Linked DNA regions of Homo sapiens: region 1 is linked to region 2. Evidence: fine-mapped expression QTL. Tissue or cell type: whole blood. Region 2 holds a variant in brackets; the other region holds the start of a gene. All regions are shown on one strand. Distances are between the middles of the regions.

The links. PIP is the estimated chance that this variant, and not a neighbour inherited with it, causes the effect.
Region 1: GMIP starts here. The variant in region 2 is fine-mapped to the expression of GMIP in whole blood (TOPMed, PIP above 0.99).

The regions. Positions count from the first base shown.
Region 1 is chr19:19,639,271-19,647,370 of GRCh38, forward strand. It overlaps GMIP (GEM interacting protein), which reads right to left and starts at 4,387. Exons shown (of 21, transcript NM_016573.4): 1 at 4,241-4,387; 2 at 3,265-3,349; 3 at 2,706-2,781; 4 at 2,540-2,597; 5 at 1,176-1,301; 6 at 1,026-1,090; 7 at 815-922. The coding sequence starts at 4,259. It overlaps ATP13A1 (ATPase 13A1), which reads right to left. Exons shown (of 26, transcript NM_020410.3): 22 at 7,859-8,055; 23 at 6,935-7,077; 24 at 6,604-6,715; 25 at 6,377-6,520; 26 at 5,928-6,262. The coding sequence ends at 6,152. RefSeq lists enhancers at 3,264-4,219, 3,441-3,600 and a silencer at 4,231-4,480.
Region 2 is chr19:19,551,705-19,559,804 of GRCh38, forward strand. No RefSeq gene overlaps it. Among named protein-coding and RNA genes, the nearest start is that of CILP2, 17 kb to the left of the region's middle. RefSeq lists an enhancer at 307-866. The variant A/C (reference allele first, on the strand shown) is at 3,130.

The DNA of each region.
Region 1 (8,100 bases), 88 kb after region 2:
GGGTCTCACTATGTTGCCCAGGTTGGTCTCAAACTCCTGGGCTCAAGCAATCCTCCCTCCTTGGCCCCCAGAAGTGCTGGGATTACAGGCATGAGCCACCGTGCCAGGCTGGACCCTTTTCTGAGTCAGTATTCTCCTCCTGGGGTCTTCTCCAGACCTGCTCTCCCCGACCCCTGAGTCCAGAAGTCTCATGTAGTCACCCCATCCTTTCTGCTTGGAAGCAGAGACACCAAGGCTTTCCTCCTGAGAACACTCAGCACCTCGTTCCCCTCCCCACAAACAAAAACGAAGTTTTTGGCTGGGCGTGGTGGCTCACGCCTGTAATCCCACCACTTTGGGAAGCTGAGGTAGGTGGATTACCTGAGGTCAGGAGTTGGAGACCAGCCTGGCCAACATGGTGAAACCCCATCTGTACTAAAAATACAAAAATTAGCCGGGCGTGGTGGCAGGCGCCTGTAATCCCAGCTACTCAGGAGGCTGAGGCAAGTGAATTGCTTGAACCCAAGAAGCGGAGGTTGCAGTGAGCTGAGATCGCACCATTGCACCCCAGCCTGGGCAAAAGAGCAAGATATTCTGTCTCAAGAAAAAAAGTAAAGTGAAGTTTTGCAATTGCACAGGAAGCCCAGCTTGAATCTTTGCTGGGTAACCTTGGGCAAGTTCCCAAGCATCCCCGGGCCTCAGCTTCCTCATCAATGAAATGGCGACGTTGGTAGTGGTGCCTTCCTCCCAGCTTGCTGGGAAACGAGGGGATCAGGCCTGAAGGACAGCAGGATAGCAGGGTGACCTCTGTAACATTCCACCCTGCCCCCCTCACCTGGTAGTAGTCTCTTTTCTGCTGGGCCACTGTCTCCATGGCCAGGGTTCCCAGGCTGAGATCGTGCTCCAGAAACAGGGTGTAGATGTACTGCAGAGGCATGTGGCTCTGGGGAAGACAGAGTGGTGTAGGAGGATACTGAAGATCTGTGGGGGACAAAGGTGGGGTTCTAGGGGGCTTGGGCTCTCCGGGGGGGTCTGGTCATGACTACCTGCTGTTGAATGGACACCTTGCCAGCTTCAGCGATCTTCATGGTGCTCTTAGCAAACTCCAGCTCTGGGGGAAGAGAGAGCCGGGCTCTGGGTCTAGCTGGGGTCTGGGGACTGCCTGGTAACTGGGGCTGGGCGGAAGAGGTCCTCACCATAGCTGGCTCTCTTTTCAGTCCAGGCAAGCAGTTCCTTGGCATAGCGGCTCCAGGTCTTGGCATATTCCAGGGCTGCGTCCACACCCCCCTTTGTCCGAATGAGCCGCAAGTCCAGTTCCTCCCCTGGGGAAGATGGATGGACCTCTGACCTTTGCACCCTAGTCTGCTATGGATGTCTTCCCTAAGCCCCCAGACCAGCCCAGTGGCACCTGTCCTACAGCCTCACAGCTCCCCAAACACTACTTTGGGATCACTTGTCCTGGTTGCAATTTTACAGATTCACTGTTTTTTGTTTTTTATTTTTTATTATTTTATTATTTATTTATTTATTTTTGAGACTGTGTTTCGCTCTTGTTGCCCAGGCTAGAGTGCAATGGCGCGATTTTGGCTCACCAAAACCTCTGCCTCCCGGGTTCAAGCGATTCTCCTGCCTCAGCCTCCTGAGTAGCTGGGATTACAGGCATGCGCCACCATGCCCGGCTAATTTTTTGTATTTTTAGTAGAGACGAGGTTTCTCTATGTTGGTCAGGCTGGTCTCGAACTCCCAATCTCAGGTGATCTGCCCGCCTCGGCCTCCCAAAGTGCTGGGATTACAGGCATGAGCCACCGTGCCCGGCCTGTGTTTGATGGGTTTTTTTATTTTTATTTTTGAGGCGGAGTCTCGCTCTGTCGCTCAGGCTGGAGTGCAATGGCCCTATTTTGCCTCACTGCAAGCTCCGCCTCCTGGGTTCCCGCCATTCTCCTGCCTCAGCCTCCCGAGTATCTGGGACTACAGGCACTCGCCACTGCGCCCGGCTAAATTTTTTTGTATTTTTAGTAGAGATGGGGTTTCACCATGTTAGCCAGGATGGTCTCGATCTCCTGACCTCGTGGTCCACCCGCCTCAGCCTCCAAAGTGCTGGGATTACAGGCGTGAGCCACTGCGTCCGGCCTTGTGTTTGATTTTTTTGGACATGGTCTTGCTCTGTCATCCAGGCTGGAGTGCAGTGGCACAATCGTATCTCACTGCAGCCTCAAAGTCCTGGGCTTAATCAGTCCTCCAGCCTCAGCTTCCAAAGTAGCTGGGACTACAGGCACACACCACCACACCCAGCTAATTAAAAAAATATTTTTTCTTTTGGTAGGGATGGTGTCTTACTGTTGCCCAGCATGGTCACGAATTCCTGGCTTCAAGTGATCCTCCTACCTCAGCCTCCACCCTGCCTGGGGTCTCCCTGAGGGCTGGGACTGAGATCTGTTGTGTGTACTGCCATATTCCCAAAACCTAAACGATGCCTTGCATGGAACAGGGGATCAGTGGTGATTTGTTGAAGGAAAGACTCCTGTCTGTCCCCACTGTCCTGGCCTCCAGACCCCCCTACCTGTGAGGGGTACAGGACCCTCTGGGGAGGGGCCGCTCCAACAGCTGGCTTCGTTGGTCTGTGCGGGAGGGAGACAGTATTCAGAAGCAAACAGGGCAGGGGCCTGGCCTTCCTAAGGCCCCCTCTGCTTGAGGTCTTCCTCCCTGTTCCCCTACTCCCCACTCACAACAGTGGCTGTAGGGGTCTTGTCAGGTTCTGGGTCTTCTGAGAGTAGAGGGTCTCCAGCCAGCATCTCAAGGGTCCTGGGGGATAAAGGTGTGTCAGGATGCCACCTTACACCCAGTCTGTCCTGCCAAGGGGTGCTGGGGACCTTAGGGTTGTTTGTGGCAAACATCACCTCTGTGGCATCTCTTGTGTCTGGGAGGTCTGAAGAATGGTGTTTTGGGGGAATCAGGTGAGTTTTTTTTAAATAGGACTTGAAAAAGCATCTGAAGGGCCCCAGATAACTTTGAGGTTCATAGAGTGGGATTATAGGGATCGCAAATATTTTAAGGGGTTACAAGGATATGTAGGGGTTCTAGGACCACTTTGGGGATTTCCAGTCTATTTAGGGGGACACTTTTAGGATACCGAGGCATTTTGGAGGGTCCCATCCTAGACTTCTCTGGTTATTAGGTATGTAGGTCCAGATGTTACAGGTTCCAAATGGGACTGCAAGGCACCTAAATGGTTAGGGGCTTGGGGCATCTTGGCAGGATTTGGGGGTGATCCAGGCTCAGACTCACACGTTCCCCAGTGAGATTTCGAGGTTGTCCAGGCTCCGGAAGATGTCACTGTACCTCTTCCTGCCCTCAGGACCTGGGGGGAGTCCTAGGGGAGGGGAGTGTAATACATGGGCTAACCACTGCCTCCCTCCACCCACGGCACCTCAACCAGTCTCATTTGGAGGGGGTGGAAGAGAAAGGGAAGAGTGAGAGAGAGAAAGAGAGGGCTGGGGGGGGCTTGGTTGGGGCCAACTCGAGGCAGGCAGATGGACTCACACACCACCAGAGACCAGAGACAGCTGCTCGGGGAACAGAGACACCCACTCCCTGGGTCTGCCTGCACCCAGAAGCAAACCAACAAAACAGATGCCCCAGATGCAACCAGGCTGTCCCGAGAAGAAAGCCGGTCTGACAATGGAACCACGGGCTAGACAGATGGAAATACACAAGGGACAGCCAGGCAGAGCCTGGGGCAGAAACACACATGGAGAGACTGAAGCCGTGAGGGACATAAAGACCGAATGACACTCCACATACACAACACAGACACAAAGACGGCCGGAAACACCAAGTCGGACCCCGCCACATTTCTACTGCTGCCCCCCTGCCCCCTCTCCTAAGGGGCCTAGACCAGCACTGCCGACTCCCCAGGGCTACAGAGGGGCCCTGTGGGGATCCTACCGCGTTGCCCTCTCCCTCAGCAGTCGTGGCACCCTGCCCCCATCACAAAAATCAGAAGCAGAAGCAGTCACTTCCCCTTCCTGGGCCCCCTCCCCCAGGCGTCTGGGGTGAGGGATCAAAAGGGGGAGGGGGAGTGAAGGGCTGGGGTCCTGAACCCATCCGGGCACAGGGCTCCCCACAATGGAGGATCCCTGGGTCCTTCCCATTCAGGAACTCCTCTCCTGGCTCTCAGGACGGAGCGGGACAAGTGTGTGCCCTCAATGTAGGAAGCAGGGGATGGTCGGGGGAGGCCCCTCCCGGATCCCCGACCCCCTACCCGGCTCTGCTGCGTCCATATCTGGGCCCGGGGATCGCTCTGCAGGGACCGGGATGGGGATGGGGTCGCGCGCCGGCGGGGCCGAGCCCCGATTTCCTGCCGCCGCAGCCGCCGCCGCCGCCTCGGTTCCGCGTCGCCCTGCCCAGCGGAGGCCACGCCCCCGCATCAGACCACGCCCCCGTAGCCCGGAAGCCTTGATAGTGCCCTTCTCTACCTGAGCCGCTTGAAACTGGGTCGGGCCAGGGCCCCCTGAGCGACCACTCGAGGCTGCAGTGCCCCTGACCTGGGCATCCTAAGACTTCATCTGGGCCATAGGTTCCCTCTCAGATCTTTGTGCTACCCCAAATCCCACGGAGCCCCAGCCCCCTCCTCCCTGAATGGTTGCAGAGTCCACCTGTCCCGGGGGGCCTCTCCCAGGAGCTCCCACAACCCGCGACCCTGGTGATCCCCTTGCCCAGGTTGTCTCTCGGAGCCCTGAAACCACCTGGGCCTCGCTGGAGCCATGGCGCCCCCTGGTGGAGGCCTGATATTCTGTCCGATTCCAACCAAAATTCTAATACTCGGGCTGGAGAACCCCTGGCCTGGGGGACGCCCCTTCCGTGACCCTCAAAGCTGGATCAGGCTCAAGGCCCCAATTACAGCACACCAGGGAGCAGCCCTTTTAGGTAGGGAGTGGAGGTTTGTCCAAAAGCACCAGCTCTGGGGTTGCCACAAGCCGCCTGTTATAAAAATGCTCCCACCCCCAGCACAGTGGAATTTTGGGGCTGGAAATAGACTTTAAAGTATGTTTATAACTTTGTGTCCAAAGGCTTTGGCTGTTAAGGAGGCAAGGATTCTCTGACTGGCTCCGTGCTGCCTACTCTGCAGTTCTTGAGTTGTGATGAGTGAGTCCATTGAAAGGAATAACACTATCAACCTAAGAGCCAAGCCAGGTTTCCAGGTCACATCCTGGCTGATGCTCAGCCAGAGCTCCCTGACTGTGACATGAGATGGTAGAGCAGCGCAGGCCCCCAAAGAGCATGACAGAGTCAGTACTTGTTTGTTTTTCTTTTGAGTTGGAGTCTCGCTCTGTTGCCCAGGCTGGAGTGCAGTGGCGTTATCTCGGCTCACTGCAAGCTCCACCTCCTGGGTTCACGCCATTCTCCTGCCTCAGCCTCCCGAGTAACTGGGACTACAGGCACTCGCCACCATGCCTGGCTAATTTTTTGTATTTTTAGTAGAGATGGGGTTTCACTGTGTTAGCCAGGATGGTCTCGATCTCCTGACCTTGTGATGGGCCCGCCTTGGCCTCCCAAAGTGCTGGGATTACAGGCTTGAGCCACCGGACAGAGTCAATACTTGTAATGATGCAGATCATATTCCTCAAGTCTCAGACACCACCCGAGAGAAAGGCATGCTGTTATGTATTATGGGAAAGAAAAAAATATCACACATCCTAAGGCTTCTCTCAGCACCTGAGTTGTTAAAATGTGAAAGAGACCTCAGAAATATGGGGGTGCTTGTTAAACTAGAAAATATGCACTGAATTCTCTGGGCAGGGACAAGTCCATGTTCAAGTGCTGAAAGTGCCAGAGGGTTTCACCAACATCACACGCCTGTGGGGAGGGTGCTGGGACCTTCCTCAGTGACCCTCTGTCCCCGAGCCCCCAGCAAACACCGTGTGGCACAGACGAGGTGGAGGCAGGGCTTTTTAAAATCTCAGATGCTGCTTTATTTACCAAAGGTGCTGGCTTGGGGCTGGTTCTGCTGGCCAAGCCAGCGGATGGCTGTGGGGGTCCCAGCTCAGTCTTCCAAGGGCGAGACTGTACAGCCTTGCTGTGGGGGGTTGGGGGCAGGGTTCCCTCCCGGGGCCCTGTTGGGGTTCCCGCCCAGCGGCAGCCAGGGTGGGCAGTGGGTACCAGCACTGCCATCTCAGGAAGGCACTTTCAGCTTCGGGGTCCCCAGGAAGAACTGCAGGACGCGGTCGGCCAGGAGCGCCAGGCAGAAGTCCAGGAGCAGGACCTGGGCAATGACCAGCTTGAACTGTCGGGGCAGGGAGGGATGGTGAGCTGGAGACCTGCAGCCCAGCTCAGGGTCACTGCCATAGGAGGGACCCATCAAGCTGAGCCCCAGGGTCACCTCCACAGGGCCACTGACCTCCACAGGGATGTCCACGAGGCCAAACTGGCTGTTGAAGTCGGGCGAGGAGCCGAGGAGCAGGCCAATGATGGCCAGGAGTGAAACTGCCAGACTCCACACCAGGGGCTTGTTCTCGGGCAGGCTCTCCATGAAGGGCGGGCCCTGTGGGGATGAGGGACAGATGGCTTCATGGGGTGGGGCTGGGTGGGCAGACAGTGAATGTTTGGGCAGGGCCCAGGCCTTACTTTGTAATTGATGGCGAAGGTGGCCATCTGCATGGCCATGGCCATGATGTAGACGGTGCTGTTGACCAGGCTTGGCTCAAACTCCTTGTACAAGTCCACGAACTGCTCCTGCCTGCAAGGACACATGGGAGTCAGGGCCCCCTCTCCTGCTCCGGCTCACACACACTGTGTGGCTTCCTGCTGCCCTGGCACAGAGCTAGGGCTCTGCCTGGCCTAGTGCCCCTCCCTGGACACCCTGGACAACCCCCAGCCTCTCCTGCTGAAGTCTGTGGAGTCATCCTCCTGCTATTCTCAGCTGCAGGGACATCACCTCCTCCAAGGCAGCACTTACTTCTCGGGGCTCCGGGCCTGGGCCTCACGGTACAGGTAGACAAGGCTCAGGAAGTGCACAAAGAACTGGAGCATGACGGTGAGGATGGTGTACAGGTTGAAGATGTTGGGCAGGGGCCGTTCTCGGGAGAGGGTCTTGAGGGGCTGCAGCAGCAAGGCGGGTGGGGGAGTCAGGATCTGGCTCACTTGGGGCCACCCTGCCCACACAGCAGGCAGTAACATCCCCTGCCTCCCGGGAGACCTTGTGTACAGCCACCACCAAATCCTGGGGGATTCCATGGGTCAGCACCAGTCCCTGGATCCCTGCCTGCCTCTCACCCCTGAGCCCAGGGCTGCCTCCCTGGCCCCGGCTCCGCCATCCAGGCTCCCCATGGCAGCCACAGGGGCCTGAGAATCATGAAGCAGATCCTGCCCTCCCTGGAGCCCACGGGACAGGCACAGTCCCGCCCAGCCAATCTCCCACCCCCTCCAGCCACCGGGGACTCCCTGCGTCAGCCCATGCCTGTTTGGGGCCTTTGTGTCCAGTTCCTGGCCGCTGGCCCCCCTGGTTCTTTACGCCTTGGCCTGAGTGTCGGTGTCGCACAGGCCTCCCCAGCTGTCCACCAGCCTGTCCTGTGTAGCCTATGACCCACTTAGTTGTTTTTTTACCCTCTTGATGATTGTTCCTTGCTTGTGGGGCTCTGTGGGGCCCACCCCTGGGACCCCTACCTGTGGACAGGTGTGGACGCCAAGCTGTACCACCTGGAGGGGTCTGGGAGCCTCAGTCCACACCTGCCCTGCCAGCATTTCCTGAGCCATCCCAGCTACAGCCCCCATCTCTGGGGCCCTGGGTCCTGTAACTTGGGGATGACAATTCCCGTGCCTATATCAGCCTGGCCCTGGCAGGCCCATGCATCCCTGGCCTTCCAGCACCTCTGGGGCCCACCTTGGAACGGGAGATGAAGAGGAAGCAGCCGGCCAGCAGCAGCCCCTGTAGGGTGGCCTGGAAGTCACTGAACTTGACTCCCTCCAGGTAGAGGACGCTCTGGCTGTAGGCCAGGATGAGGGCATTGAGCGCCAGGATCTTGAACATCTGTAGCGTGGTCACCAGCGTGCAGCGGCCCTGCTTGATCACGTGGCAGACTGCAGGGTGGTGGGGAGGCAGGTGTGGGTGTGGGTAGGGGTGCC
Region 2 (8,100 bases):
CGGGACATACAAGATCCCCCTGGGACTTCTCAGCGAGATCATCCCCTGTCCTTTGTTATCTGGCTGCTGAGTGGCTTTCACGGGGCAGGGGCTTCTAGGCAGAGGGATGTTGGAGTGAGGGCCTGGGGGTGCTTCGCCAGGACTTCTGGGAGGCCTGGGTCCCCAGCCTCGGCCCCGCTTGCCATCTGGCCCAGCTGAACACAAACACTTGGACATGGCCGACCCAACGGAATCTGGGTTGTGGTCAGGCCGTGGCTGAAAAAGCCACTGGAAAAACACGCAGCCCACGGGGCCAGGCCCAGCTTACGTTTCACCAGGGAGGAGTGGCCTGCTCGGCGCCCAGAGCCGAGGAATGTCCGTTCTCTAACCCTTTGGAACTTGTTGTCTGACTGGGGAATCCAGCAGCTGGGCGGTGCCATCCTTAGTGCCCTCTGGTCAGGCTGTGACTTACCTCCTGCTGTGTTCTTGGAGACTCAGGCCTCTTGGCGTGGCCCCCTGGCCCAGCCCCTGGCCAGCCACTGCTGAAGACCCCTTGTCAGCTTGCACACCCCTGAAGACAGAGGGCTCACTCCCTTCCAGCTGTCATGCCAGGCAGCCGGAAGCCTGTTAACTAGGCTGATTTTTTTTTTTTGAGACAGATTCTTGCTTTGTCGCCCAGGCTGGAGTGCAGTGGCACGATCTCGGCTCACTGCAAGCTCCGAACTAGGCTGATTTTTTATGGGAAATTCGGGCTTCCTTGGCCACACAGATGGGAGGTCAGTGCAGCCTGGGCACTCCCTCCTTTCCCTGGGGTTCCACCTCCTTCTGGATCTCCGGATGTCCCCTCAGGCCCCTAGGATCAGCAGGTCCCAGTGGACCCCAGTATCTCACTGCGAAACGTGTTCCTCACCCTGCAGCCATGTCTCAGGGTTATCCATCTGTCTGTCTGCCCTGCGCCGCGGGCAGGGCTGGTGGCCCACACATCCACTGAGTGCCCACTGGATGCGGAAGCACCTCACTTGCATCTCCTCACTGACCTCTCCCGGGGAGGCTGGTCCCATTAGTGCTCCACTTTGCGGGGGAGGGCCGGGGGGGCGGTGTGGGGAAACAGAAGCTCAGGGGGTTTCTTTTACGTCCTGAAGATGTGGTGGCAGATTCTGGAAGTAGGAGCCAGTTCCCCACTGGCTCCAGGACAAGGGCCTGGGAAACCTCGTTTGTCAGGCCGGGACAACGCCTGGTGGCCAAAGGGGGAGCTGCAGCCTGGGCCATGGGGGTGCCTGCTGCAGTGTCCCTAGCTTAAGGCTGGCTTGGGTTACTTCTCTGCTCAAACACCCTCCATGGCTCCCGTAGTCTCCTCAGCGGGCACAGGGGTGCTAGATGAGCCCCTCCTGGGTCATTACAGAGACTCCTGACTGCAAAATCTTGCCTCTTGGGTCAGACCTAAGCCCTGTCCTCACTCAACCTCACAGCCTGTTTCCCCAGCTGGGGAATAAACCAACAATGGCCTTTGCCTCTTCAGGAACTGGTGACTGCAAGGCTGGCATGGGTTAGGCGCTCTGTAATTGCAATTGTCACCCTCAGTAACGCACAGGAGAGGGGCAGGGACTTGAGCTGGGGTGTCCCAGGCAGCCTCAACCACCCTCCCTCAGCAATCGCTACCCGCCCCCCCGCCCAGGACAAGGCATCTGAATCAGGGCCTCAATTTCCTCCCCAGAGTGTGGGGGCCTCCAAACTTTATCGAGGGTCCTAGTGTGTTAGGTCTTGAAATGCCCCCTGGAGTCGTAGGGGAACAGAAATGTTCACTAGGGAGTGGGTATAGGGCCTTGCCAAGCACTGATGAAGGGGCCCTAGAAACTTCCATCTTTTTTTTTTTGAGACAGAGTCTGGCTCTGTCACCCAGGCTGGAGTGCAGTGGTGCAATCTCGGCTCACTGCAACCTCCACCTCCCGGGTTCAAGTTATTCTCCTGCCTCAGCCTCTCGAGTAGCTGGGATTACAGGTGGGCACCACCATGCCCAGCTATTTTTTGTATTTTAGTAGGGCTTCACCATGATGCCAGGCTGGTCACGAACTCCCGACCTCAATTGATCTGCCCGCCTTGGCCTCCCAAACTGCTAGGATTACAGATGTGAGCCACCACACCCTGCCAAAACTTTCATCTTAAAACTATGAGGGAGACCTTGAAACTCTATGTGGGGGAAATTGAAACTGCATATGGGGGTCTTGAAGGTGCCACTGCACACCTTGCTTGGCCTGAGCAAACCTGCAGGTTACTTCCACCCGTGACCCACGTGGGGAGACTGACGCCAGAGACCTCCTCCCCACACACCACGCCTCTCCTCATCCCTCAACACTCTCCGGGACCCGCTTCCGTCCAAAAAACCCCCATGGGCCAGGCAGGCGTAAGGTTGCGGCCCAGGGAGGGGCAGCCCGTTCCCTAGGGCCACACGGCCCAGCCCCTTACCCCGTTACTTGGGGCAGGGGTCGATTCCGAGCCAAGGGTTGGGGCGACTGACCTAGAGTGACTGGAGCTAGGCCCGCGGCTGCCTGAGTTGCCCCATCTCTATCCCAGGAGAGGGAACCAGTGCCAGGAGGAAGACCAGGCGCCCGCCCCTGCGGACGCTCCTAGCCCCTTAGCTAAGGTCTCAGGACACCGGCTGGCGGTGAGGACGGGGCAGCTCAGGGGAAAAGAAAGCCAGGGAGGGCCGGGGGCTCCGAGGGGTTTTAGGGAGGGGTACAGCAGTTAGCCAGGCGGAGGGAATGCCAGTGCAAAGGCCCTCCCTGCGGTGGGAATGAGCTTACTCAGGGGCAGTGAGGGGTCAGCGAAGAGGGAGATGCCCGGATCCTCTTCTATTGTAAGATCGCCCCCTGGCGGCCCAGTAGAGAAGGGGCAGGGAGATGGGGCCGGTCCAACCTCCCGTCTACCCTCCAGCTCTCCCAGCCTGGCAGATGAGTGGCCCCCTTCTCCCAGCCTGGGTGTCCCCAAAGGCAAGAAGGAAAAACAGAATCCCAGACCTTGCGAGAGCACCCCTGCATGGACACAGCCGTCAGCACCTTTCTGTGCTCATGGGATTGCCACCAAGCCCTTCGAGCAGGAGCACATGTGCCCATTTTATAGAGGGGCAAATGGGCTCAGGGAGAGAGGGGAGCA[A/C]GCAGGGTGCAGAGGCAGGACTCAAACCCAAGACTCCGGCCCTGTCTGGGGCTCTGGCAGGTTGGGCTGGACCAGGTTGAGGGTGTCTGTTGGGAGCTGGAGGAGCCACTATGGGCCTGTGAGGGTCCCAGGTAGGTGGTCAAGGTGGGAGGCTGGGGAATCCAGAACGCGGGCGCAGGGGACAGTACACATCACCAGGGTTCCCTCTCTGTGCCTTGGTTTCCCTAGCACTTCGTTGAGGAAGGTGAGAACATCACTGGCTCCCTCCTCAAATGGTCCCCCACTCGTTTTGGGATCTGCTGGGGATTCTTGCTTCAATCCATGTGCCCACGGGCCACTGGGAGTCCCTACAACGCTGCCAGTGGCCCCATTTAACATGCAGGTCCCAGGTCAGGCATGGTGGCTCACACCTGTAATCCTAGCGCTTTGAGAGGCCAAGGCGGGCTTATCACCTGAGGTCAGGAGTTCAAGACCAGCCTGGCCAACATGGCAAAACCCCATCTCTACAAAAATACAAAAGTTAGCCAGGCATGAGGGCGGGCGCCTTAATCCCAGCTACTTGGGAGGCTGAGGTAGGAGAATCGCTTGAACCCGGGAGGCAGAGGTTGCAGTGAGCTGAGATCGCGCCACTGCACTCTAGCCTGGGTGACAAAGCAAGACTCCGTCTCAAAAAATTAAATAAAATGCAGGTCCCCAGTTCCCTCAGCGGAGGCTCCTACAGATTTGGATGTGTCTAGAGATTGAAAGCATTATCCCTCACTTTCCAAATTCTTGCTGTTTCAAAATGAGGAAGGCTGAGAGCTGAAAGCCCACCATCCCGTCCCAGCTGGACCCACAATATGGGTGATGTGTGGTCCAAGGGCGGGCAGAGGCGGTTACCCCAGTCAGGATCACACACTCCAGGTATTTAGCTACCATTTGCAAAACACTCTTGCTAGAGGTAGTGGTGTGTGTCTATAGTTCCAGATACTCAGGAGGCTGAGACAGGAGGATCACTTGAGCCCTGGAGTTCGAGGCTGCAGTGAGCTATGTCACTGTACTCCAGCCTGGGTGACAGAGCAAGACCCTATGTCTAAATAAATAAGTAGGCCAGCATGGTGGCTCAGTCCTGTAATCCTACCACTTTGGGAGGCCGAGGCAGGCGGATCACTTGAGGTCAGGAGTTCAAGACCAGCCTGGCCAACATGACAAAACTCCATCTCTACTAAAAATACAATAATTAGCTGGGCCTGGTGGTGGGTGCCTGTAGTCCCAGCTACTCGGGAAGCTGAGGCAAGAGAACTGGTTGAACCTGGGAGGTGGAGGTTGCAGTGAGCTGAGATTCACGCCACTGCACTCCAGCCCGGGTGACAGAGCGAGACTCTGTCCCCCCTCCCCTCAAAAAAAAATTATTTATTTAATAATAAAAATAAATAGGCTGGGTGCGGTGGCTCATGCCTGTAATTCCAGCACTTTGGGAGGCTGAGGCGGGAAGGTCACCTGAGGTCAGGAGTTCGAGACCAGCCTGGCCAACATGGTGAAACCCTGTCTGTACTAAAAATACAAAAATTAGCCAGGCATGGTGGTACATGCCTGTAATCCCAGCTACTCGGGAGGTTGAAGCAGGAGAATCACTTGAACCTGGGAGGCAGAGGTTGCAGTGAGCTGAGATCGCACCACTGTACTTCAGCCTCGGCAACAGAACAAGATTCTGTCTCAAAATAAATTAATTAAAATAAAATAAAATAAAATAAAATATAAAATAAAATAAAAAGAAACACAAAAATTAGCCAGGAGTGGTGGCACATGGTTATAGTCCCAGCTACTCAGGAGGCTGAGGTGGAAGGATCGCTTGAGCCGAGGAGGTCAAGGCTGCAGTGAGCCATGATTGCACCAATGCACTCCAGCCCAGGTGACAGAGTGAGACCCTGTCTCAAAAAAAAAAAAAAAAAAAAAAAAAAAAAAAAAAAAAAAAGCTGGGTGTGGTGGCTCATGCCTGTAATCCCAGCACTTTGGGAGGCTGAGGCAGGTGGATCACTTAAGGTCAGGAGTTCAAGACCAGCCTGGCCAACATGGTAAAACCTTGTCTCTACAAAAATACAAAAATCAGCCGGACATGGTGGCAGGTGTCTGTAATCCCAGCTACTCGAGAGGCTGGAGCGGGAGAATTGCTTGAACCTGGGAGGCAGAGGTTGCAGTGAGCCAAGATCACGCCATTGCACTCCAGCCTGGGCACCAGAGTAAGACTCTGTCCCCATTCCCCTCAAAAAAAAAAAAAAAAAAAAAATCAGGAGGGGAATTGATGAGACTAAAGGGTACATGCATTCTTATTTTTTATAGAGATGGGTTATCACTCTGTCTCCCAGGCTGGAGTTCAGTGACATGATCACGGCTCACTGCAGCCTTGAACTCCTGGGCTCAAGTGATCCTCCCGCCTCAGCCTCCTGAGTAGCTATGGTGTCCATCACATCTGGCTAATTTTAAAAAATGTTTATGAGACAGCGGTGTCACTATGTTGTCCAGGCTGGTCTTGAACTCCTGGCATCAAGCGATTTTCCCACCTTGGCCTCCCAAAGTGCTGGGATTACAGGCCTGAACCACCATGCCCAGCCTCAACGTGTCCACTTTTAATATGAATAGATTCTAGAAAATTGCCCTCCTGGGCGGCTGTACCAGACTGTACCCACCACCACTGCCTTCAGGCTGGGAGCCCCCCGCCCTGCTGCTTCCTCCTATCTAGGGGCTCGGGGTGCAGGTCACAAAGCCTCTGAGCCTCATTGTCCCCACCTGTTATGTGGAGACGCCTATCAGCACCCACACAGCTAGCAGGCAGTTCAAGTCCCTGGTGACTCCTGTGTCCCTGTAATCACCTTTATGGCTTGGTTACTATCATGCAGCCAACTTTTAGGCACATTTGAATAGTGCAATATAAAATATTAATAAAGTGTGACTTTGTGTGCAGAATTTGACCTGGGTTGGGGGGGTGGGGCGGGTGCAGCAGCTCACACCTGTAATCTCAGCAATTTAGGAAGCCGAGGCGGGCGGATCACTTGAGCCCAGGAGGTTGAGACCAGCCTGGCCAACATGGCAAAGTCCTGTCTCTAATAAAAATACAAAAATTAGCTGGGCATGGTGGCGCATGCCTGTAGTCCCAGCTACTTGGGAGGTTGAGGCAGGAGAATGGCTTGAACCCAGGAGGCAGAGGTTGCAGTGAGCCAGGATCATGCCCCTGCACTCCAGCCTGGGCAACAGAGGGAGACTCTGTGACACACACACACACACACACACACACACGCGCACAACGAATTTGACCGGGGTGGGGATTTCTTTTATCGAAACCCCCCAAGAGGCCTAGCTCTGAATCTCTGAACCGTGATCTGCATTCACGCTACAGGCAGAGGAGGGCGGGCGGGAGCTGGAGGCGTAGCTGCCCACAGGCTCAGCTCCAGCCTCTGGCAGGCACATCCAGTCACCGCTTTGTCCTCAGCACCCAGAGGAGCTGCCCGGCAGGTCCTGCCCTCTCCCTCCCTCAAGGACCTGCCCAGCAGCTCTCCCGGGCTCACAGCCTTAGTTTCCCTCCCACACCGCATGTCCCCCAGTGACCTCTTTGCTCTGAATCCCCCCAAGGGCTGACGAGGCTAGAGCCTCCGATTTTCTAGTAGTTGTGGCCCCATCACTCCACTGAAGCTGTCACACCCGATGCTGGACTTGGAGGTGGCTTCTTGATCCTGGTGGAGCTTCACTTCTGCTCCTGGTGTCTGTCCTTCTTTCTGCTTCTATGACATCCTCTCCTAGTTTCTGTCCCATATTTTGGCCTCCGTTGACTTCCAAATTGCTCTCTGCAGAGCAGGCCTCTCCCATGAGTGCGACTCCCATGTGCAGCTGGGGGACGGACACCCTGGGCCTGACAGCGTGGAGCTGAACCGGTCTCCCCCTCAAAACCATCCCCGTCTATTCCACCGGAGACTTCGGGCACCGTGACTCCTCTTCATCAGCAAGTACTGTGGCGCCACCTTCGCCTCCATCACGAACTCAGCGACACTTGACCATCCACCACCTAGGTCCCAGGACCCTCCTATGCCCCTCACTGCTGTCTGTCCTGGATGCAGCATTGGAGTGGCTGTGAAGATGCTGAGTCTAATGGGCACCCCCGAGGGCTGGCACCTCCTGCCCCTCCTCTGTGTGTGTGGACACCTCGAGGTAGGGTCAGTGCTCTCCGTACGCTCATGCTCACCTCCTGTAGGCCTTGTCTCAGAAGGCACCTTCCCCAGTTGGGATGGGACTGAGCCACAAAGCAGAAGGCGCACTGGCCCGTGCTCCAACGTGGATGAACCTCAAAGACACGATGCTGAGTGAAGGAAGCCAGACATGAAGGCCACACAGTGCACAAGCCCACTGATCTGAAATTTCCAGACCAGGCACATCTGAGACAGGAAGCAGACTGGTGGCCGCCAGAGGCTGGGGAAAGGGAATGAGGAGTGACTGCTCATGGGGACAAGGCTTTTTTTGGGAGATGAGAAAGTTTTGGAAATAGAAGTGATGATGTTGTGAATATATTCACTTCATTGAGTTGTGCACTCAAAAATGGCATACTTGGCAGGGCACAAGGCTGAAGTGGGGAGATCACTTGAGATCAAGAGTTCAAGACCAGCCTGGCCAACATGGCAAAACCTCATCTCTACTAAAAATACAAAAATTAGCCAGGCGTGGTGCATGCCTATAATCCCAACTATTCAGGAAGCTGAGGCACAAGAATTGCTTGAACCCAGGAAGTGGAGGCTGCACTGAGCCGAGATCGTGCCACTGCACTCCAGCCTGGGCGACAGAGCGAGACGGAGTGCAGTGGCACGATCTCAACTCACTGCAAGCTCTGCCTTCTGGGTTCACGCGATTCTCCTGCCTCAGCCTCCCCAGTAGCTGGGACTACAGGCGCCCACCACCATGCCCGTCTAATTTTTTCTATTTTTCAGTAGAGACGGGGTTTCACCGTGT